Linked DNA regions of Homo sapiens. The protein of the gene in region 1 purifies or fractionates together with the protein of each later gene. This does not show direct contact. Each region holds a gene or a part of one and is shown on either strand. Other genes may lie near its edges. The genes, in order: RNGTT, RPRD2 and STYX.

What was found.
Region 2: the proteins of RNGTT (region 1) and RPRD2 purify together in Homo sapiens (affinity purification with mass spectrometry, with the first as the bait; one large-scale study listed by BioGRID). This does not show direct contact.
Region 3: the proteins of RNGTT (region 1) and STYX purify together in Homo sapiens (affinity purification with mass spectrometry, with the first as the bait; one large-scale study listed by BioGRID). This does not show direct contact.

What each region holds. Positions count from the first base shown.
Region 1 is NC_000006.12:88,904,612-88,908,266, reverse strand, and holds part of RNGTT (mRNA-capping enzyme), read left to right. Parts: intron 1-1,826; coding exon 1,827-1,902; intron 1,903-3,311; coding exon 3,312-3,552; intron 3,553-3,655.
Region 2 is NC_000001.11:150,367,017-150,370,671, forward strand, and holds part of RPRD2 (regulation of nuclear pre-mRNA domain-containing protein 2), read left to right. Parts: intron 1-3,655.
Region 3 is NC_000014.9:52,754,011-52,757,665, forward strand, and holds part of STYX (serine/threonine/tyrosine-interacting protein), read left to right. Parts: intron 1-2,540; coding exon 2,541-2,601; intron 2,602-3,308; coding exon 3,309-3,345; intron 3,346-3,655. UniProt on the Homo sapiens protein: Catalytically inactive phosphatase. Acts as a nuclear anchor for MAPK1/MAPK3 (ERK1/ERK2). Modulates cell-fate decisions and cell migration by spatiotemporal regulation of MAPK1/MAPK3 (ERK1/ERK2).

The DNA.
Region 1 (3,655 bases):
CTATTTTGAAATAGTCTAATTTATCAGTATTTTTCTTCATTTTATGCTTTTTGTGTTTTATCTAAGAAACTTTTTCTACTCTAAGCTTGCAAAGATTTACTCCTGTATTTTCTTCTAGAAGTTTTGTAAATCTAGCTAGTTTATTTCTATATTTGATCTTAGTTGCACTGTATCAGTATGATCTATATATACAGAGAAGAATAATTTGTAGAAGGTAATATTAGAAAGATACAGGCTGGGCATTGTGGCTCATGCCTGTAATCCCAGACTTGGGGAGGCTGAAGTGAGAGGATTGCTTGATCCCATGAGTTTGAGACCAGCCTGAGCAACATAATGAGACCCTGTCTTTACCATAGAAAAAAATTAGCTGGGGATGGTGGTGTGAGCCTGTAGTTCCAGCTACTCTGGAGGTTGAGGTGGGAGGATCACTTGAGCCCAGGAGGTCAAGGCTGTGGAACCTGATCATGCTACTGAACTCCAGCCTGGTTGACAGAATGAGATCCTGTCTCTAAAAAAAAAAAAAAAAAAAAAGATACAGCTTAAATATTAGGATATCCTTTAATTAAATAGAAATAACAGGAAAAGCTTCATTTTGAAGACTGTAGGAGAGTCAGCAATATTGTCATGTTTTAATTACTATTTTCAAACTAGTTATATTCGTCTCTTCTCACATAAAGATACTACTCGAGAATGGGTAATTTATGAAGGAAGGAAATTTAATGGACTCACAGTTGTGCATGCCTGGGGAGGCCTCAGAAAACTTACAATCATGGTGGAAGGGGAAACAGGCACGTCTTAAGTGGTGAGAAAAGAGAGAGGGCATGTGAAGGAGGAACTGTCAAACACTTACAATCTTAGTGGTGAGAAGAGAGAGAGAGGGCATGTGAAGGAGGAACTGTCAAACACTTACAAAACCATCAGATCTCATGAGAACTCACTCACTATCACAAGAACAGCATGGGGGAAACCACCTCCATGATTCAGTCACCTCCCACCAGATCTCTCCCTCATGGGGATTGTGGGGATTACAAATTGAGATGAGATTTGGACGGGGACACAGAGCCAAACCATATCAGTAGTTAAAATGATCTTGAATATGTTCTGAGAAAGAGTTTAAGAAAATAAATTTTCTTTCCTAGCTGGTTTCTTTCTTTTAAAAATTTATTTAGAAAGATTATAACCTAACTTGAAAATACAGTTAGTTGGTTTCTAGAGAGCTTCAAGGTAACTTAATTTTTATTGTACTATATATCTATCAGTTAATTATTTTCTGTAGCTAGTCACTTTTGTTGATTATATTTAATTAGTATCAGGCCCCATATGAATTTATATTTCTATTAGTTTATTTGCTCTGTTCTAGCTTCTGGATTTTAGAAAATAGGATTTGACTATTTTGCAAATATATGCCATTGATCATGAAGAGGACCGTTTTTTTTCTACTAGAGAAATTTAAAGTTTGAGGGTCAGAAGGATCTTGTGTGTATGTGTTTTATGTGTCCTTTTGAGTTGTGTGTTTGATGAAAATACCTCCTTATTTAAAATGCTTGGAATCTTCTAGCTTTAGGAGAACTTGTTAAACAGTAGAGACAGTTTTACATCAATAAACCTATATATTACACTTAAACTTCTAGCTAGTTATAAATTAGATTCTAAGCAATTCAAACTGACAAGTTTTCAAGTTATAAGGGTGTTTCAAGTTAAAAAATTAAAAAATGTAATTATTTTATAAACTAGCTGAAATGTTTTGATTGCAGGTTGGAATTTTAAAGTAAATGTGGCCTCTGCAGTGATTTGTTAATTTTAACCAAAGCTACTTTATTTTCTAGGTGTTCATTGTACTCATGGCTTCAATCGCACTGGTTTCCTCATATGTGCCTTTTTGGTGGAGAAAATGGATTGGAGGTATTTGTATCTTGTTATAATGGAAGATGTATTTTGTAATAAAAAATTTTATTGATATTTTAGTTGCAGAATTTTGTATTGTCAAGTTTTTGGTGAACTCATGATTAATGTAATTTGAACTGCTTTTCATTTTAGATATGGTTAATCTTTATACTACCATTACTTGGTGTGTGTGTGTATGTGTGTATGTGTATATATGTATGTTTTGTTTTGTTCTTTGAGACAAGGTTTCCTCTGTCATCCAGGCTGGAGTGTAGTGGTGTGATCATGGCTCATTGCAGCATTCACCTCTTGGGATCAAGCAATCCTCCCGCCTCAGCCTCTCAAGTAGCTGGGACCACAAGTATGTGCCACCCATGCCTGGCTAATTTTTTCTTTTTTGTCTAGTGAGGAGGTCTCCATATGTTACCCAGGCTGATCTTGAATTCCTGGGCTAAAGTTATCTTCCACCCTTGGCCTCCCAAAATGTTGGGATTACAGGCATGAGCCACCACACCCAGCCAGGTGTTTTGCATTAACCAGCAAATCACTTTGAGTGCTTATGAATTTCATAAACTGTATATTCACTTTTTCAGATTTTTTTCACCTCTTACAGAATTATCAGAGACAGATTCTTCCAATATTTTGTATTTTAGTATTTTTGGGAGAGTGTTACTCCATTTAAGCCAATCAACATGTCTTTATTGAGCATCTGTTATTTTTGAAGTGTGTTTTTAGATCCTGAGAGATTACGACTTTAGTACCCAATATTCTTAAGAGAATATATTACTAACTGAATTTTCTTGTTGACTGAGGGAGCATCATTATTTATGTTTACAAAGATTTTCACATAGTAGGTCCTTTTTTGAATATAATCAGTTGAAGTACACATATGATTTTGAATTTTGCAGTATGCATTGTTGGTGGTTCTGTACTGCATGTACTTTCTAGCTCTGACCATTCAGATGCTCTCCACAATGATCTCAGTTTCCTATGTCAGATTTAGCCTATGCTTATCCTCTCTTTGATGATCTAGACTCTTAGTGCCTGGATCTGTTGAAAGTTCCTGTAAAATCAATATGCTTTTACTTTGCTCACATTGTTGTTTTTTTGACTGATGTTTTGCTGCAGAGTCAGACCTCAACCTTCAAGACTAAATTCTTCACAGACCCTATCTAGGTCTCTACTATATACTCATAGCAATTTATTTTTAGAATTTCAGAATTTTCTGAATACCTTATATTAAAACCTTTTCAGAATGAATGTGTCCCTTAATAGATTGAATGACTTGAGGGTGAGGATTGTGATTTGCCCATTTTATAAACTTCTGTTGTACTTTATATGGAGCCTTGAATATAATAAGTGAGTTTTTGATAAGCCTGCATAAATAGAGGATAGCGAGGAAATTGCATGGTGTTTGTTTCCTATAGTATCGAAGCAGCAGTTGCTACTTTTGCCCAAGCCAGACCACCAGGAATCTACAAGGGTGATTATTTGAAGGAACTTTTTCGTCGGTATGGTGACATAGAGGAAGCACCACCCCCACCTCTATTGCCAGATTGGTGTTTTGAGGATGATGAAGACGAAGATGAGGATGAGGATGGAAAGAAGGAATCAGAACCCGGGTCAAGTGCTTCTTTTGGCAAAAGGAGAAAAGAACGGTTAAAACTGGTAATGTTTAAAAATATTATAATAGGTTTTTTTTTTCCTTTTTCTGCAAGCTTATTGAGATTTATAAAAATGGAATATTGGCCATGTTTCTTTAGCTAGGTTT
Region 2 (3,655 bases), on another chromosome or scaffold:
TGAGCTTATTTCCTTTATTGATATCTTAAGAGTGAAAAAATGAATGCTCCAGGAGGGCAGTGTGTCAGTTGAAGTGCATTGTGTATAGTTTATATAGTTAAGTGCTTTTGGCTAAATATGATGTTGTTTTTCTAGTGGAATGGAATTTAACTTTCTAAAATGATTAAGGGTAATTTTAGTCGTTTTGTATTTACATTTAATGAACTTCACTGGTCTCATTGTAAATAAAGCGTTTTGAGAGAAATATTCAGCAGAATGGTGTGGGGCGCAATGAAAACAGTTTATGCATGGGCCTTGTTTTCATTTAAGTTCTTATTTCTTTACAGTTATACTTAGTTTACTCTGAGTTTGGTTTCTAAGTCAGCTTTAGGAAAAATTGTGAAGCAGGTATCTTTGGACTCTGAGTTTGGTTTCTAAGTCAGCTTTAGGAAAAATTGTGAAGCAGGTATCTTTGGCATTCCCAGCCTTTCTGTCCATTTTCCTGATGCCACTTTGCTTCTCTTTTTTCTTCTGACATCCGTTATTTAGTAATTTATATTTATATTTAGACCTCAGTATAAATTTAAGTAACTATTAGATTCCAGAGATATTTTAATTTTATCCTTTATTTCAGTGTGTAATGAGACTTTTGTTCATATAAAAGGAAATAATTTAGAGAAATAGGCTATCTAAGGATATGTTCCAGAGATATTTTTATTTTATCCTTCTTTACTTTTTTTTTTTTGAGATGGAGTCTCGCTCTGTCGTCCAGACTGGAGTGCAGTGGCGCGATCTCAGCTCACTGCAACCTCCACCTCCAGGGTTCAAGCAATTCTCCTGCCTCAGCCTCCCAAGTAGCTGGGATTACAGGCACGCACCACCACGTCCAGCTAATTTTTGTATTTTTAGTAGAGACAGGGTTTTACCATGTTGGCCAGGGTGGTCTCGAACTCCTGACCTCAGACCATCATTTTCTAAGGTGATCTTTCTGTAGCATAAACAAATGTCATTCCTCTGCTTTAAAACCCTGCAGTGATATCCCATTGCAACAAGTTGAAGGTCTGAATTTCTTTTACATTGATCTGTAAGTCCTGTACCATCTGCTCTGCCTACCTCGGGCTTCTTCACATCCTGCCTCCTTCTCATTGTTTAGATCAAATCTCAACTATTACCTCCTCAGAAAGACCTACTTTGATCACCTTATTTCTTGTTTTTTTTTTTTTTTTTTTAATACGGAGTCTTAATAGATTTTTTTAAATTACATGTATCTGTTTTTTATTTATTTTAAATTAATTTAATTTAATTTAATTTTTTTGAGATGGAATTTCGCTTTGTCGTCCAGTCTGGAGTGCGGTGGCGTGATCTCAGCTCACTGCAACCTCTTCCTCCCAGGTCAAAGTGATTCTCTTGCCTCAGCCTCCTGAGTAGCTGGGATTACAGGCGTGCACCACTAAGCCCAGCTAATTTTTTTTTTTTTTTTTTTTTGAGACAGAGTTTCACTCTTTTCACCCATGCTGGAGTATAATGGCACGATCTCAGCTCACTGCAACCTCCGCCTCCCAGGTTCAAGTGATTCTCCTGCCTCAGCCTCCCAAGTAGCTGGAATTACAGGCATGCGCCACCATGCCTGGCTAATTTTTGTATTTTTAGTAGACGCAGGGTTTCACCATGTTGGCCAGGCTGGTCTTGAACTCTGGACCTCAGGTGATCCACCTGCCTCTCAGCCTCCCAAAGTGCTGGGATTACAGGTGTGAGCCGCCGCACCCGGTACCTGGCTAATTTTTGTATTTTTTGTAGAGACAGGGTTTCACCATGTTGGCCAGGCTGGTTTTGAACTCCTGATCTCAGGCGATCTACCCACCTCAGCCTCCCAAAGTGTTGGAATTACAGGCGTGAGCCACTGCACCCGGCTTCGCTTTATTTCAAGTAGTGCCTTCAATTGCTGTCACATCATCTTATTTTCAGTATATGATATTACCTTGTTTGTTACACGTTTATTGTCTGGCTTCCCTCCACCAGATGACAAGTTTGTCTTATTTGTTGCCCTGTCCCCAAACAACTAGGATAGTGCTGGCGTACAGTTAGCAATCAGTAAATGTTTGCCAACATAATGTGAAATAGCTAATCAAGAACTTAAGGAACAGAATTGCTTTAATTTCTGTTTATCAGAAGGAAGCATTTATAATTTAGTGAAAGAAATTACAGGTGCAGCAGTTGGAGGCATATGGACTTGATGTGCAATTTGCCCAGATTATCATTTCTGTACTTCGTTCTTCTTTCTCTCTTTTCTGTGGGGAGGTGGGGGAGGGACAGAGTCTGGCTCTGTTGCCCAGGCTGGAGTGCAGGGCATGATCTCCGCTCACTGCAACCTCCGCCTCCTGGGCTCAAGCAATCCTGCCACCTCAGCCTCCTGAGTAGCTGGAACCATGCCACCACACCTGGCTAATTTTTTTTTTTTTTTTTTTTTTTTTTTTTTTTTGAGACGGAGTCTTGCTCTGTCGCCCAGGCTGGAGTGCAGTGGCGCGATCTCGGCTCACTGCAAGCTCCGCCTCCCGGGTTCACGCCATTCTCCTGCCTCAGCCTCCCGAGCAGCTGGGACTACAGGCGCCCGTCACCGCGCCCAGCTAATTTTTTTTTTTTTTTTTTTGTATTTTTAGTAGAGACGGGGTTTCACCGTGGTCTGGATCTCCTGACCTCATGATCCGCCCGCCTCAGCCTCCCAAAGTGCTGGGATTACAGGCGTGAGCCACTGTGCCCGGCCTACACCTGGCTAATTTTTATGTTTTTGTTTTTGTTTTTTTTTGATGCAGAGTCTCACTCTGTCGCCTAGGCTGGAGTACAGTGGCGGAATCTCGGCTCACTGCAACCTCCATCTCCCGGGCTCAAGTGATTTTCATGCCTCCGCTTCCTGAGTAGCTGGGATTACAGGCACATGCCACCACGCCCAACTAATTTTTGTATTTTTTAGTAGAGATGGGGTTTCACCATGTTGGCCAGACTGGTCTCAAACTCCTGACTTCAAGTGATTCGCCCACCTCAGCCTCCCAAAGTGCTGGGATTACAGGCGTGAGCCACCACGCCCGGCCAAATTTTTATGTTTTTTGTAGAGACGAGGTATTGCCATGTTGCCCAGGCTGAACTCTTGGGCTCAAGCTATCTGCCTGCCTTGGTCTCCCAAAGTGGTAGGATTACAGGCGTGAACCACCAGGCCCAGACCTTCTTTCCCATTTTTAATGGTAAAATGGGAATCAATATGGAAAAATATAAAAGAGGCCTGTGTTAACATGTTAACTCCGGTCACTTAATACTGGATGACACTTTGCAAAGTACTTAAACTGTGAACCTCAGTTTTTCATCTATAAGTAGTTCTGTACCTGTAGATGAAAGTTCTACAATCTACAAGTAGAGATAATTCTGTCTGGAATTTACATTCCAGACACTGTCTACAGTGCTGGAAATTACATTCCCAGTTTGTGAGAGACGAATTGGACTAGCCTCTCTGTAGTAAATTAGCATATGCTTTGAAGAACTAGGAGGACAAAATGGAAAATATTGTGTTAATGACATCCATTTTGTCTTTTTTTTTTTTTTTTTTTTGAGACATATTCTTGTTCTGTCACCCAGGCTGGAGTGCAGTGGCATGATCTTGACTCACTGCAACCTCTGCCCCCTGGGT
Region 3 (3,655 bases), on another chromosome or scaffold:
TCCTGAGTAGCAGAGATTACAGGCATGTGCCACCACGCCTGGCTAATTTTTGTATTTTTAGTAGAGACGGGGTTTCACCATGTTGGTCAGGCTGGTCTCAAACTCCTGACCTCGTGATCCGCCTGCCTTGGCCTCCCACAGTGCTGGGATTACAGGCGTGAGCCACTGCGCCCGGCCTGAATTTTTTATAATTATGAAAGAAATACTTTTTTTTTTTTCAAAGATAGGATCTTTCTCTGCTGCCCAGCCTGGATTGCATTGGCATGATTTCTGTTCATTGTAGCCTTGACCTCCCAGGCTCAAGCAATCTTCCTGCCTCAGCCTTCCAAGTAGCTGGGACTACAGGTGCACCACCGGATCGGGCTAATTTTTTTTTTTTTTTTCTAGAGATGGGGTTTTGCTGTGTTGCCCAGGCTGTTCTTGAACTCCTGAGCTTAAGCGATCTACCCACCTCAGCCTCCCAAAGTGCTGGGGTTACAGGCATGAGCCACCACACCTGGCCATGAAACACTTATTCTTTATAAGTACTTCGGAAGGTATAGAATGACACCAAGAAAAATATTTAAATCATCTACAGTTCCACAATTCAGAGAAAACACTTTTGTTAACATTTGGAATATTTCCTTTTAAATCGTTCTCTGTTGTGTATGTGTATTTACGTATATATGCATAGAATTATTAAAGAAAATGAGAATGTTGTATTTTAAAATATCAAACTATATAAGGTGAAACTAATCTTAAGAAAAAACAAAAAAGCCAAAAAATCATACTATTCATTTCTAATGTGTACAGACTTTTTGTTTTAAATTATAATGTTGTTTGTGCAGGTTCTTTATCCTAATGGAAGAACCATTTCTCCTTAAACTTTTACAATACTAGCTTCTTAGAGATTGATAGTTCTACTAGCAGTGCTTGACACTGAAAATGTTATGCGTTAAAATATTTAATTTCATTCTGAGTTAACATTTTTCCCCTGAAGCATTATTTTATGTAACTGGAATACCCAGTCACTTCAGGATACAGTCATTGTCGAAATCCTTGTAGGTTAAATATTGGATTTTCCTCAGATCCTGAGGTTCAGCTTCTGTGTTTTTTTTTGTTTGTTTTTTTGTTTTTTTTTTTTTGTTTTTGAAACAGAGTCTTGCTGTTTCACCCAGGCTGGAGTGCAGTGGCACAATTTTGGCCCACTGCAACCTCTGCCTCCCGGGTTTAAGTGATTCTCCTGCCTCAGCCTCCTGAGTAGCTGGGATTACAGGTGTGCACCACCATGCCTGGCTAATTTTTATATTTTTAGTAGAGATGGGGTTTCACCATGTTGGCCAGGATGGTCTTGAACTCCTGACCTCAGGCAATCCACCTGCCTCGGCTTCCCCAAGTGCTGGGATTACAAGCATGAGCCACCATGCTCAGCCTCAGCTTCTCTGTATTAAAGTCCTGAATTCTTTGAAGTTGTTACCACCTAAATGATCATTGAAAAACTGTATTTTTTAGTGCAAAATTGTTCTTAAAACTAATTTAATAACTTAGCTAATTGCCTATAGTTGTGTTAATAAACAGTGGTCTTAGAAACGCTTAGAAATGGAAGTTTTTTACAAAAATAAGCTAACATATTTAAAATGCCTTTTAAGTATTTTGTAAAGTGTAAAATTCAGTACAGGTGCTCTCTCAGCTAGTTTTTTTTTTTTTTTTTTTTCCCCTTTACTAAAGATGAGTTCAAACAGTGAATGTTTGACTCCTGGTTCCATAGACCATACCTTCCGTTTTTATTTGTTCGTTCTCTTAGACTTTGGACTTCCTCTGAAATGTCCTCTGTAGGTTCATGAGCAGGAGTCACAGGACCACTTAGAGAACAATCTTCTGGTCTTAGAGAAATTGGTAGAAATAAAAGAATAACATAACGATTACAGGTACTTTTGTCTTTATTTCTAGGTCCACTCTAATCTAGAGGAATGTATCTTCCTGCTTGTGATTTTTCTATTTTAACCAGATGGTTCATTATATGCAAATAAAATATGTATTTATTTTTGAGATAAGAATCTTGCTCTGTTACCCAGGCTGGAGTGCAGTGGCCCAATCACAGCTTACTATATCCTTGACTTCCAGGCTCACACAGTTCTACCTCAGCCCCCTTAGTAGCTGGGACTATAAGTGCACACCACGACACCCAGCTAATTTTTTAATATTCTGTAGAGATGGAGTCTCCCTCTGTTGCTCAGGCTGGTCTCGAATCCCTGGGCTCAAGTGATCCTCCCACCTTGGCCTCCCAAAAGAGTTTCTTTTTGCTGGGATTATAGGCATGAGCCATTGTGCCCAGCCTGATGGATTTTTTAAATACTTAAATATCAGAGATGTTAACATGGTGTTTCAGGTTTTAATGCCTTCAAGCAATGTAAAATCTACCACACAGTTCTTGGGAATATGATACTTTGAAAGTTGTTTTGCATTCTTGCCATGGTTAACAAGAAATAATGAGTTATTTTTTTAAAGTACCTTAAGTGTTTTACTTAAAGTGTGCTTATCACAAAATACTCTATTTTCAGATATTTAGTCCTGGATATTGCAGATAATCCAGTTGAAAATATAATACGTTTTTTCCCTATGGTAGGTACCAGTATTTTTTAAATATCATTTAAAATTTATTTATGATTTGACTTCTTAGTTGTGCTTTTTTTTTTTTTTTTTTTTTTTTTTTTGAGACAAGAGTTTTACTCTTGTTGCCCAGGCTGGAGTGCAATGGCGCAATCTTGGCTCACCACAACCTCTGCTTCCCGGGTTCAAGTGATTTTTCTGCCTCAGCCTCCCAAGTGGCTGGGATTACAGGCATGAGCCGCCATGCCCAGCTAATTTTGTATTTTTAGTAGAGACGGGGTTTCTCCATGTTGATCAGGCTGGTCTCAAATTCTCGACCTCAGGTGATCTGCCTGCCTCAGCCTCCCAAAGTGCTGGCATTACAGGCGTGAGCCACCGTGCCCAGCCCCTTTAATTGTGCTTGTAAAGCTTGCTACTTTTACTTTGCTATGACTGAAAATTATGTGATTGTGTTTTTAAAAGAATTATTTGTAGAAAATTTTTTATGATCTCCAGAAATTTGAGGAATCATATTGTGAATGTATTGGACTTAAATTAAATTTTGGCTTCTTTAATTTTTTTGGACTTGTAATAGTTCTATTTATAGCATTTTGGAAATTGGTGAATCAAAATAATTTTTATACATATAAATTAGGAAATTGTTTTCAATAGGTTTCATTTTGTTTCATTATATGCATTTATTTTATGCTTACATTAATCCACATGTCTTTTGCCTCCAGACTAAGGAATTTATTGATGGGAGCTTACAAATGGGAGGTAAATAACATTTCCTTTCCTTAACTAATGTTTATATTTTGATTATTTGTTAATTTTTTAGTTGGTATTTGTCTTAAATGCAGGATATGGAAGTTACAATTATATGTAGTAGCTTACTCCCAAATTTGTATTTTCCCAATTACTTGTTTCATTTGGATAGGCTTTCTGGAGTATCCCTGTAGACTGTTTTCAAATTCTCTGTGAGCTTTCAGTTTCTTTAATAAGAGTCTGCTATATTCTCTACACAGTTGATAATAACAAATTGTAAAGATTTGAAGATATCCAAGTGATTATAGTATATAAGGAGTTA